2 separate regions of the Homo sapiens genome follow, and region 2 is linked to region 1. The links come from fine-mapping of genetic effects on gene expression. A gene starts in region 1. The other region holds a variant in brackets. All regions are shown on one strand. Distances are from middle to middle. Region 1 holds the start of ETNK1 (ethanolamine kinase 1). Region 2 overlaps ETNK1 (ethanolamine kinase 1).

The links. PIP is the estimated chance that this variant, and not a neighbour inherited with it, causes the effect. A credible set is the group of variants that fine-mapping cannot tell apart.
Region 2: its variant is the best candidate, but not a certain one, in a credible set for the expression of ETNK1 in whole blood (TOPMed, PIP 0.63).

What each region holds. Positions count from the first base shown.
Region 1 is chr12:22,621,979-22,627,522 of GRCh38, reverse strand. ETNK1 (ethanolamine kinase 1) reads right to left here and starts at 2,352. Exons shown (of 8, transcript NM_018638.5): 1 at 1,937-2,352. The coding sequence starts at 2,092. ETNK1-DT (ETNK1 divergent transcript) reads left to right here and starts at 2,477. Exons shown (of 4, transcript NR_135030.1): 1 at 2,477-2,850. RefSeq lists enhancers at 1,229-1,918, 1,938-2,107, 2,638-2,707.
Region 2 is chr12:22,644,483-22,649,482 of GRCh38, reverse strand. The region is part of intron 2 of ETNK1 (ethanolamine kinase 1); the gene reads right to left. Among named protein-coding and RNA genes, the nearest start is that of ETNK1, 22 kb to the right of the region's middle. The variant T/C (reference allele first, on the strand shown) is at 2,065.

The DNA.
Region 1 (5,544 bases):
TTGAAAGGTGAATAATCATCAATTCAGCTTAGCAGATGCTTTTAGGACAGCTTCTAGACCAAAGCTTTGCTTGCACATGGAGGGAATGTATTTCTAACTAATAATCATCTTAGGGAAAAATAAATGGTAGTATTTACCTGCACTTACAAATATTAAAAATTCGGATTATAAACCCAAAGGTCTTTAGGTTAAAAGTTGCTACAAGAAACCAAGATTTAAACACACGTAGTTACTTTCCAACAAGCAAAAACAGTTTAATGTCACTACATTTTGCCCTTTTTTACCTACATCCTGGCTTACTTCACTGAGTTTCACCTAAAATGATAGTGCCTACCTAATATGGTTGTTCGGGCGACTAAGATAAAAAAAAAATAATTTAACTAACCCCACAGTAGCTATTATTACTATTCTACAGACAAATACATCAAAGGAAATTCCAGTCTTCAAAGCTTTAAACTTTAAAGTCACTGCTTAAAAGTAACTGATCTGCCAACACTAGAGTTTACCAGGAAGTAGCACTTTTTAATTAATAATGTTTTATGTATAAGTGACTGCCAGAAAACAAATCATCTTAATAAATTTTAGAGTCTTATATAATAAAATACAAACAAATTGATAAACTAAACAAGTACTGAATTTCAATTTGGAAGACACATTTCCTTTAAAGGAAATATATTTTTTAAATGACATAAAAATCACTTTGGATTCACTATTTCCTATATTCTCGGCTAACAAATACTCCCTTAAATTTCAAAATTTGTTGTCTAACAAGTTTCTTCTCCAAAACATACGGGTCCTTTAAAATAATCTGCTTAAAAACTCTTCTAGGTAATAAGAACTGAAACTAACACATGAAAACCCAAGTGTCAGGAACTGTTCTGGGCCCTAGGCACTGCTCATGTTTTATTCATCTTTGTGTGGGTGGCTGGCTAGTTTAGCGAAGAATTTAGCAAATAAATCAACAAATATTGGTGAATAAATTAGTCATCAAAACGAGGCAGATGATTTGGCTAATTCAAATGAATGTTCTTACATTATTGCTCAGATTTAGAACAAATCCCAAATATCCCAATCTTGAAAATTACTGTTTTTTTTTGTTTGCAAGGGAAAAGGAGAAAAAGAGATCTATTTTTGTATCTAGTTCCTGAAACTAAAGCTAAAAACAGATTAGTATTCAAAAAAAATCACGTAGTGGAAATCATAACTTCCAACTTATTAGAAAACTCCTAGAGTCTCAGGGATTTTTTTCCTCCCAATTTTTTCTCTATCAACACGGTGTCTCATGAAAAGGAAACAGTCACAAGCCACTGCTCCTTCTAGTATCAGGTATTAATTTCAGTAAGACGACTTTAATAATTCAGAAATATCGACTCAAACAAAACAATGTGTGTGGTGCTGCCTAAGAACCGACCTAGCGATGCATGGTCGTGGTCATTACTTTGGGAATTGAGTACGCTAGGGTTTGGGAAGACAAAACGCAGTGTGAGGCATCAATGAAAGCACATCGCAGGGGGAGGGGAGAGGAAGGAAAGATCAGAGAGGATTAATGACTGCATTACTGGTGGGAGGGGAGGAGGTAGACGAGGACCCCGTGCAAGGGGAGTGGAAAGGTTCATTTTGCAGTGACCGTGGACTGGGGAGTGGGAGGAGGGGCAACTATCAGCAGGAATCTCCCCCCGTGGATGGGTCCGTCACTTACGCAGCGGCTTCTAGAAAGAGAAAATGTGCCTCAGGTCAATCTCAAAGAGCAACTGCGACGGGAAGGGGGAGTGACCCTCCTAGGTGTGAGGGGAAATACAGGGTCACTTCCCAATAGACTTAAGGAGATGTTGCCCTAGGTCCTCCTCGGTCATCGTGGGACAGAGGCGATTGTGGTGAGGACCCCCAGAGCCGCGTGAGGGGCATAAGAGACCCAGAGCTGAGGTGTGGGCGTTACCTGCAGGGTCACCTCCTGGGGGTCCCAGTGAGGCCGCAGGTGTTGCAGGAGGCTCAGGGCCCCCTCCCGGCAGCGATGCTCCTCCTGATCCTGAACGGTGACGTTCAGCTTGGGCACCTCCGGGGAGCCGGGAGGGACGTGGATGTAATTGGCCATGGCCCAGGCGACGGCGGAGACTACCACCACGACGACGGCGACGGCGACCACGAGAACGGCGGGCGCCGACAGACTGGTGGATCCTTCCGTCCCGGGGCGCCCTCGCGGGAGGGCTGGGGGCGCTGGGACGGGCGGGCGAGCGGCAGGAGAACGTCTGGAGGCGGCACTGTTGCCGATCCGGGTCTGGACAGCAGCTGAACTGAGCCCGGCCCGCTCTCGGAGAAAATTCCTGTTGTCGGAGCTGGACCGCGGGCGGCCGCAGAGCATGCCGGGGCTGGCCTGACGCTGGCGTCACGCGCGGGGCGGGTCCTGCGCTGCGTCAGGGTGCCGAGGCGGGGTTTCTCGCCTCCGGTCACAATGGGACCTCTGTACCGCGCTGGGCTTGTTGGCCTGCGATTAGCACACACCCATCCCTGGGAACTGCTAGTCTGGAAAGCGGGGCTGCTTCTCCGGGATGAGCCCGAGCCCTGCCAAGCCCCTCAAGGCATTGAAGCTTTAGCTCACCTTATCCGAATGGTCATTGGGCATCTGGACTTGAGTTAACGACTGAATTTTTCTGGGAAGCAAGGGACACGTTCTAAAATAACCCCAGGATCACTCTCCGAACTTGGCCTGAGTCTAGGCAAGCAGTGTTACTCGGTCGCCTTGATCTTGGAGCTGCTGTGTACTGGGGACCTCATACTAGTTGGGTTAACTATATTCCCATTAGCAGTACGCGGGATCGCAGTACTCGGGACAAGCTGAGTTCAGGTATTTGGGTAAGACAACTGCAACACTTCAGAGGTTATTTGTGGAGTAAGATGTTCGACCATACAGTGAATAATTCGAAGCTAGGGAGAACAGATTAGAGTCTGGTATGAAGAAGAAAGGGAAGGAAAGGAATAGTTTTGAAGCTCAGCGCTAGAACGACTCGATGTCCATGCCAGGGTACCCCGAGTGGGCCTTGAAATCTTGCGTCTCAGTGCCTTACAGGGAATGGTAGAAACTGGAAAATCTACAAGTAAAGTATTGGGACCTCCTAATTTTCCTTTTAGATGGAGGAAAACGGGCTGGGATTCCCTGCAGCACTTAGCACACGGTGAATACGTTTGTTAGTAGTAAATAAAACCCTTAACTGGACTGAGTTTAATTAACATTCAAAATGTTTAATTACTTCACTAGCATTAAGTTTACATCCTGATTGTTCAGAAAGAACCTACTTACCTTTGTAATTAACAAAATAATTACTTCACCGATAACGGTAAACTTCCTAAACTAAAAAGAGGGGTGGAAATGGAGCTTTATAATACAGCAAAGAAGTTGATTTAACATTTTTCAAATTTAGTGGTTTTTTTGTTTGTTTTTTGTTTCTGTTTTTTTTTGTTTTGTTTTTGAGACGGAGCCTCACTCTGTCGCCCAGGCTGGAGTGCAATGGCGCGATCTTGGCCCACTGCAACCTCCGCCTCCCGGGTTTAAGGGATTCTCCTGCTTCAGCCTCTCGAGTAGCTGGGATTACCGGCGCGTGCCACCACGCCCAGCAAATTTTTGTATCTTTAGTAGAGATGGGTTTCACCATGTTGGCCAGGCTGGTCTCGAACTCCTGACCTCAGGTGATCCACCCACCTCGGCCTCGCAAAGTGCTGGGATTACAGGCGTGAGCCACCGCGCCCTGCCAGATTTAGGCATAATTTTCTACAAGAAACATTAGAGTGTGTGTTCCTTCCACTTTGGGGAGAAATCATAAATATACTACTACTTTCACATTTCAGATAGTATCTCTTGTATTTTTGTATAAATTGTATTTTTTATTAAGCAGTTGACATTTTAAGAATTTTAAAACTATGTAACTGTAAAACAATTTAATTGAAAATTATGTTGCAAACTGCACTAGTTTGTAATGGTAAATAAGAGTCCATTAACAAGTAGAAGAAAAGAAAAAAAAACTATTAGGTACCTGAGAACAAAAGTAACCGAAAATGTACAGGATCCATGGATAAAATTAATGGAGAAATGAACCATATTCATAAATGAGAAAAGATTAATGTAAAGGCCTCAATTTTCCCTGAACTAATCAGTACATATAATGCAATTCCAGTTAAAATCTCAAAAGGGTTTTTTTACTGAACTTGTTAAAATGACATTGAAATTCATATCAAAACTTAAGGTCCAAGAAAAGCGCTGTAATTGGGGAGAGGAGGATAGGGACAGGTAAGATCAGGGAATATATTGGGAGGACCAACCCTACCAGGATGTATTATATATTGGTTTAGGTATGGGCAAATAAACTACTAGAACATAATAAAGTCCCAGAACAAAACCTACACACATATGAGAACTTTGTATATAACAAAAGTAGCATTAAAAATTAGTGAGAAAGTCCAGACTGATCAATGAACCGTAGTGATACAATTGCTTTTTGTATGAGAAAAAAATTTTGATCCCTCCCTCTTATTATGCATAAAAATTAATTTGGGGAAGATTAGAAACCTAAATGTTAAAAGCAAAACTTTAAAAATGTGCAAGAAATATCAGTTCTTATCAACCTGATCTACTGATTCAATTCTAATCACCTCAAGTTATGTTGTGGATATCAGCAAACCAGTTCTAATGTTTACATGCAAAGCCACAAGAGCCAGAATAGCCAATACAATATTAAAGAAAAACAAAGTGAGAAAACAGACAGACTTGAAGACAGTATAGCTGGGTGCAGTGGCTCATGCCTGTAATCCCAGCACTTTGGGAAGCTGAGGCAGGAGGTTCGCTTGAGCCCAGGAGTTTAAGGCCAGCCTGGGCAACACAGTGAGACCTCATCTCTCCAAAAAAAAAATTAGCCAGGTGTGGTGGTGCACACCTGTAGTCACAGCTACTCCGAGGCTGAGACAGGAGGATTGCCTGAGCCCAAGAGATTGAGGCTGCAGTGAGCCATGATCAAGTTACTGCACTCAAGCTTGGGCAACAGAATTAGACCTTGCCTAAAAAAAGAAAAAAAAATAGTATATGTTCCAATAATCAAGACAGTGTAGTATTGAAGCCAAGGCGAGTGAATCACTTGGGGTCAGTAGTTTGAGACCAGCCTGGCCAACATGGTGAAACCCTGTTTCTACTAAAAATATAAAAATCAGCTGGGCGTGGTGGCAGGCACCTGTAATCCCAGCTACTCGGGAGGCTGAGGCCGGAGAATCACTTGAACCTGGGAGGCGGAGGTTGCAATGAACCAAGATCACACTACTGCACTTCAGCCTGGGTAATAGAGTGAGACTCTGTCTCAAAACCAAAAAAAAAAGACAGTGTAGTACAGTGTAGTATTCTCAAAAGAATAGAGAAATAGATCTATGGAACAAAATAGAGTCCAGAAATAGATCCACACAAATATAGTCAACTAATATTTAATATTTAACAAAGGAAAAAGGCAATTCAAATTTTCAATAAATGGTGCTGGAACAACTGGAGATACACTTGCAAAAAAAAAAAAA
Region 2 (5,000 bases), 22 kb before region 1:
GGAGAAAAGATAGACTTTTCAATAAATTGTGCTGAACAACTGGACCTTCACGTGCAAAAACATGAATCTAGACATAGACCTTACACTCTTCATTAAAATTCTGTCAAAATGGATTACAGACCTAAATGTAAAATCCAAAACTAAAATTCCATGAGAAGATAACATAGGAGAAAATGTAGATGACCCTGGATTTGGCAATGACTTTTTAAAAATGACACCAAAGGCATGATCCATGAAAGGAAGAACAGATAAGCTGGACTTCATTAAAATTAAAACTTTCTACTCTGCAAAAGACACTGTCAAGAGAATAAAAAGATAAAGCACAGATTGGAAGAAAATATTTGCAAAACCCATATCCAATAATGGATTATTATCCAAAATACACAAATAGCTCTTAAAATTCAGCAATAAGAACACAAACAACCCAATTTAAAAATGGACCAAATACCTTATCAGACATTTCATCAAAGATACACAGATGAGTAAATAAGCATATGAAAAGATATTCCATATCACATATCAGGGAAATGCAAACAAAAACAGTAAGATACCACTATATATCTATTAGAATGGCCAAAATCCAAAACACTTATAACACCCAATGCTGGTGAGGATGTGGAGCAACAGCAACTCTCATTCATTGCTAGTGGAAATGTAAAATAGCACAGCCATTCTGGGAAACAGTTCGGCGGTTTATTACAAAACTAAATATACTCTTACCATACAATCCAGCAATCATGCTCGTCAGCATTTACCCAAAGGAGTTAAAAATTTGTATGTCTACATTAAAATTTGCACAGGGATTCTTATAGCAGCTTAATTCATAATTGCTAAAACTTGGAAGCAACCAAAATGTCCTTCAGTAGTTGAATGAACAAAATAGATTTGGTGCATATCCAATGAAACATTATTCAGAACCCTAAAAAGAAATCTGCCAATAAGCCATAAAAAGACATGGAAGAAACAAATGCATATTACTAAGTCAAAGAAGCCAATCTAATGAGGCTACTTAATTAAATGACTCCAAATATATGACATTCTGAAAAAGGCAAAACTGTGGAAGCAGTAAAAAGATCAGTGGTTGCCACTGGTTAAGGGGAAAAGAGGGATGAATAGGCAGAGCACAGAGGATTTTTTTAGAGCAGTGAAACTCCTCTGTATGATACTACTAACAGTGGATACATGCATTATATATTTGCCCAAACCCACAGAATGTACATCACCAAGAGTGTACGCTAATGTAAACTGTGGACTTTGGGTGATAATGGTGCATCAATATAGGTTTATGTATTATAACAAAAGTACCACTCTGATATTGATAATGGGGGAGGTTGTCTGTGGAGGAAGGAGGGGATCTGGGAAATCTCTGTACCTTCCCCTCAGTTTTGCTGTGAATCAAAAATGCACTAAAAAACTAAAATCTTTAAAAGGAAAATCTCTTCATTCAGATAACTTAGCATTATTTAATAATCATTAATTTATGTTTTGTATATATAAGAAGGTAATTAAAAATCATTTAAAAGATATCTGATTTTCACTATCATATATTGGTCCTTCTCCTACCTTGTCTCAGTAAGCGAGGTTTTACTACAGTAACATCAAGTCAAACGCTGCTTTAAAATTCCATACTCGTTAAAGCCAAATGTTTCAAACCCTCAAGGCTTCAGAGAATTCCTCAAATATTCACTAACACTAATTGTTACTTCTCTTGAAAGCTTTTAAAAAATTAAATGTATTCTAACAATAACAAAAATATTTTGAAACGAAAAATAATCTTTAATCTTACCATCCCATAGTATTTCATTTTTATATATCCCCTTTGAGTTTTTGCATGAGCAAATTACTGCCTAATTGTAGCCACAGTTAAGCTATTTTTTAAGCTGATTTTTTCCTGTTGCCCTGCATCAGCCATTTTGCATGTATTAGACAATAGTCAAAAAGTTACATTTCAACAGTAGCATAATTCTCCTTTGTGTTGAGGTACCTTAGTTATATCTGAATATAAGAGACTTTTAATTGTTGCTGCCAGAAATACAGCATATAACTTTCTTTTGAGTTATTATA[T/C]ATTGTCCTTTTGATTTCCAAAAGAAAACACTACCAACTGTACATGCACACAACCCACAAGGTGCCAGTTCCACTACGGTACCCTCAGTATGCTCTTTGATAAACTTGCAACAATTGATTTGAAACTGCATTTCTTCCATTATGTCTGTTACTGGATGGTTTGTCATTAAACTTCAGCCAGGTTCTTGACAAGAGGCAAATTTCTAAGAAATATCTGATAAGAAATTTGAAAAAATTTCTAAACACTTTTGAATTTTAAAAAATTTTCTGAAGGTGTCCGTAATAACTGATTGCTACAAAAAAGCTCAAATAAAACAGAGAATGATAAATTTCCATAAGTGGAATTACCCGTCAGGCACTATAGCTCATTGTCTTTACCTATACCATTCCTCACCTCCTACAGGCTACCTTGTCCTTCAAAGTTCAGTTCAAATGTGATCACAGTGAAACATACTAATTTCCTATGTATGCCCAAAATCAACTACCTGTACTTTCTCTGAAAGCCTTTTCTGTTCTTCTTTGTACAATATTTAGGTTATTTTTCCCTCAAGGTTACTGTGTCACAAACTGTAAATTACTAAGACAGCAAGGACAGTTTAGATTCTTCTTCCTCCCCCAGACTAGTCCAAACATAAACATAAGCCTTTTACATTCAAATGAGATACCTTCGTCATAATCATAATATAAGCATACAGCTATGGTTGAATGAGCCAATTCAAGAAAGTACTGTGGACTTTGATCTAAAGCGCTCATCAACATTTACTGATCAATCAGTCCAGATCACTGCATGCATATTATTAGGCTGACCTAACAATCAATAGTGTCTTAAAAGTTTATTATTATATTCAAACATTAAAGCTCATAAGGATTAATCAAAATGTGACAACTAACCCCAAATTGTCAGTAAGTCCCTATTAAATTAACAAATCAAAGATTCTTTTTAACCACAGAATATAAAATTCATTTAAAAGGGGCTAAATAAGCACATCATCCCAAATTTACATCTTTAACCTCTTCTTGGGGCTCCAGACCATGGTCTACTGATCTGCTTACTTGGTATTTTAGAAGTATTTCACCGTACATATTTGAAAAAAATAAAACCACACTCCTATTTAAAATCATGTGTAACTCAGACGTTTTGTTAATCAAAACTTGCCTTTCCCTCCCTTAGCTTTTCTTTTCATATTTTCTGTTTTATAGTGACTAAGACCTGCTTAACAATAAGAAATGCCATAGGAATTAGAATACAGTCTGAAATAAATTTAACAGCGAAACAAATTAAATAGCAAATGTTACTATTCATAATGCCAACTAACAATATCCTATCATACAGGGTTCTTCAGTGTCATCTTCTTTTGCTTACTTTCTCGGCCTCCACTCTGCTTCTCCTCTGCAAAACTGTGGGGCAATTCAATGTATCACTTATTACAAGCCAGCTGTCAAAGAATTCAGAGTATTGATGTTTGGTTTCTAACACAGTATATTCTTTTTATGAAATGTGTATATGCCTACATTAGTATCACTTATACATATTCTGAGTAAATCTAGGAAGGGGGGTGATGAAAAGAAGTTGGTTAATGGGTATGAACGTACAGTTAAATCAGAGGAATAAGTTCTAGCATTCAATAATACAGCAAGGAAATTATAGTTAACAATAATTTATTGTATATTTCAAAATAGCTAGAAAAGAAGAACTGTAATGTCCCAACCCAAAAAAAAATGTCTGAGATGATAGATACACCAATTACTCTAACTTGATCATTATACAGTGTATACATGTATCAAAATATCACATGTACCACAAAAATATGTACAACTATGATATATCAATAAAAAATATATTTTTAAAAAGATCTAAGTAGAGAAAAAATAAACAAAGGCTTTGGCATTTGGGAAAGAAATAATAAGTAAGTAGATCTAACCAAAAAGTATAGAAAAGGATATTTTTACTGAAAACATGTTTATAACATTGTATCAAATACCAAAGTCAGCCTTGACAAACCTTCACTGTTCTTGATCAAAAACTATAATTATTTTACTGTTTCTATTTGAGGTTACTGAAATAGATCAATCATGTTTTACTCTCTGCTTTAGTTACAAGGAAACTCATGTGGCCCTTCTCTAGGAACTTCATGAAATATGTTTTTGTATATATACAAAACCAGCTTTGGGGGGATCCAATCTATGCATCTATTAATTTTTAATGCTGTTATATAGGTATTTGTCAACCATTGTGAACAAGATTGAGGATTTATAAATACATGCAAGCCTAAAGACCACAAAACAATTGACACACAGTAAACACAAATGTATTAATCAGAATCTTTTAATACATCTAAAGACTAGACTCATGTAAAAGAAGAAAATATATGTGATGGCTAAAAACTAGGGTTTGAACAGATTTCTATGACAAAATATTTTAATATATTATTTGATACAGGTTTACAATAGATAAGTGTTACTGGTACATTCCATTTTTGTCAGTGTATTAACTTAGCAATTCTTAACCTATGATCCAGGGAGCCCCGGGCCATCCGAAATCCTTTCAGGAGCTTTGTAAAGTTGAAACTATTTTCACAAGACGTTATTTACCTTTCTCATTCTCACTCTTTCACAAGTGTACAGTGTACCTTTCAAGAGGTTATATGATATGTGATAATTTCATCACAATGATAGCTAACAGGACATGTACTTGATATTCTTGTATTCTAAAAAATTTGTTTTAATATCTAATATGGTAAATATTGATAAACATTAATCAAATATTAAAACAAAGAGCCCAAAGAGCTATAAAGAGGTCTTGAGACCAAAATGGTTGCAAACTGCTGGTCTAACCTATGAATGCTGTTTTCAAATCCAGACCATTTTCTAGAGTTTTCAAGAGCAGAAAGAGAATTTTTAAAGCTGGCAATTTTGGAAAAATGATCAAGCATATA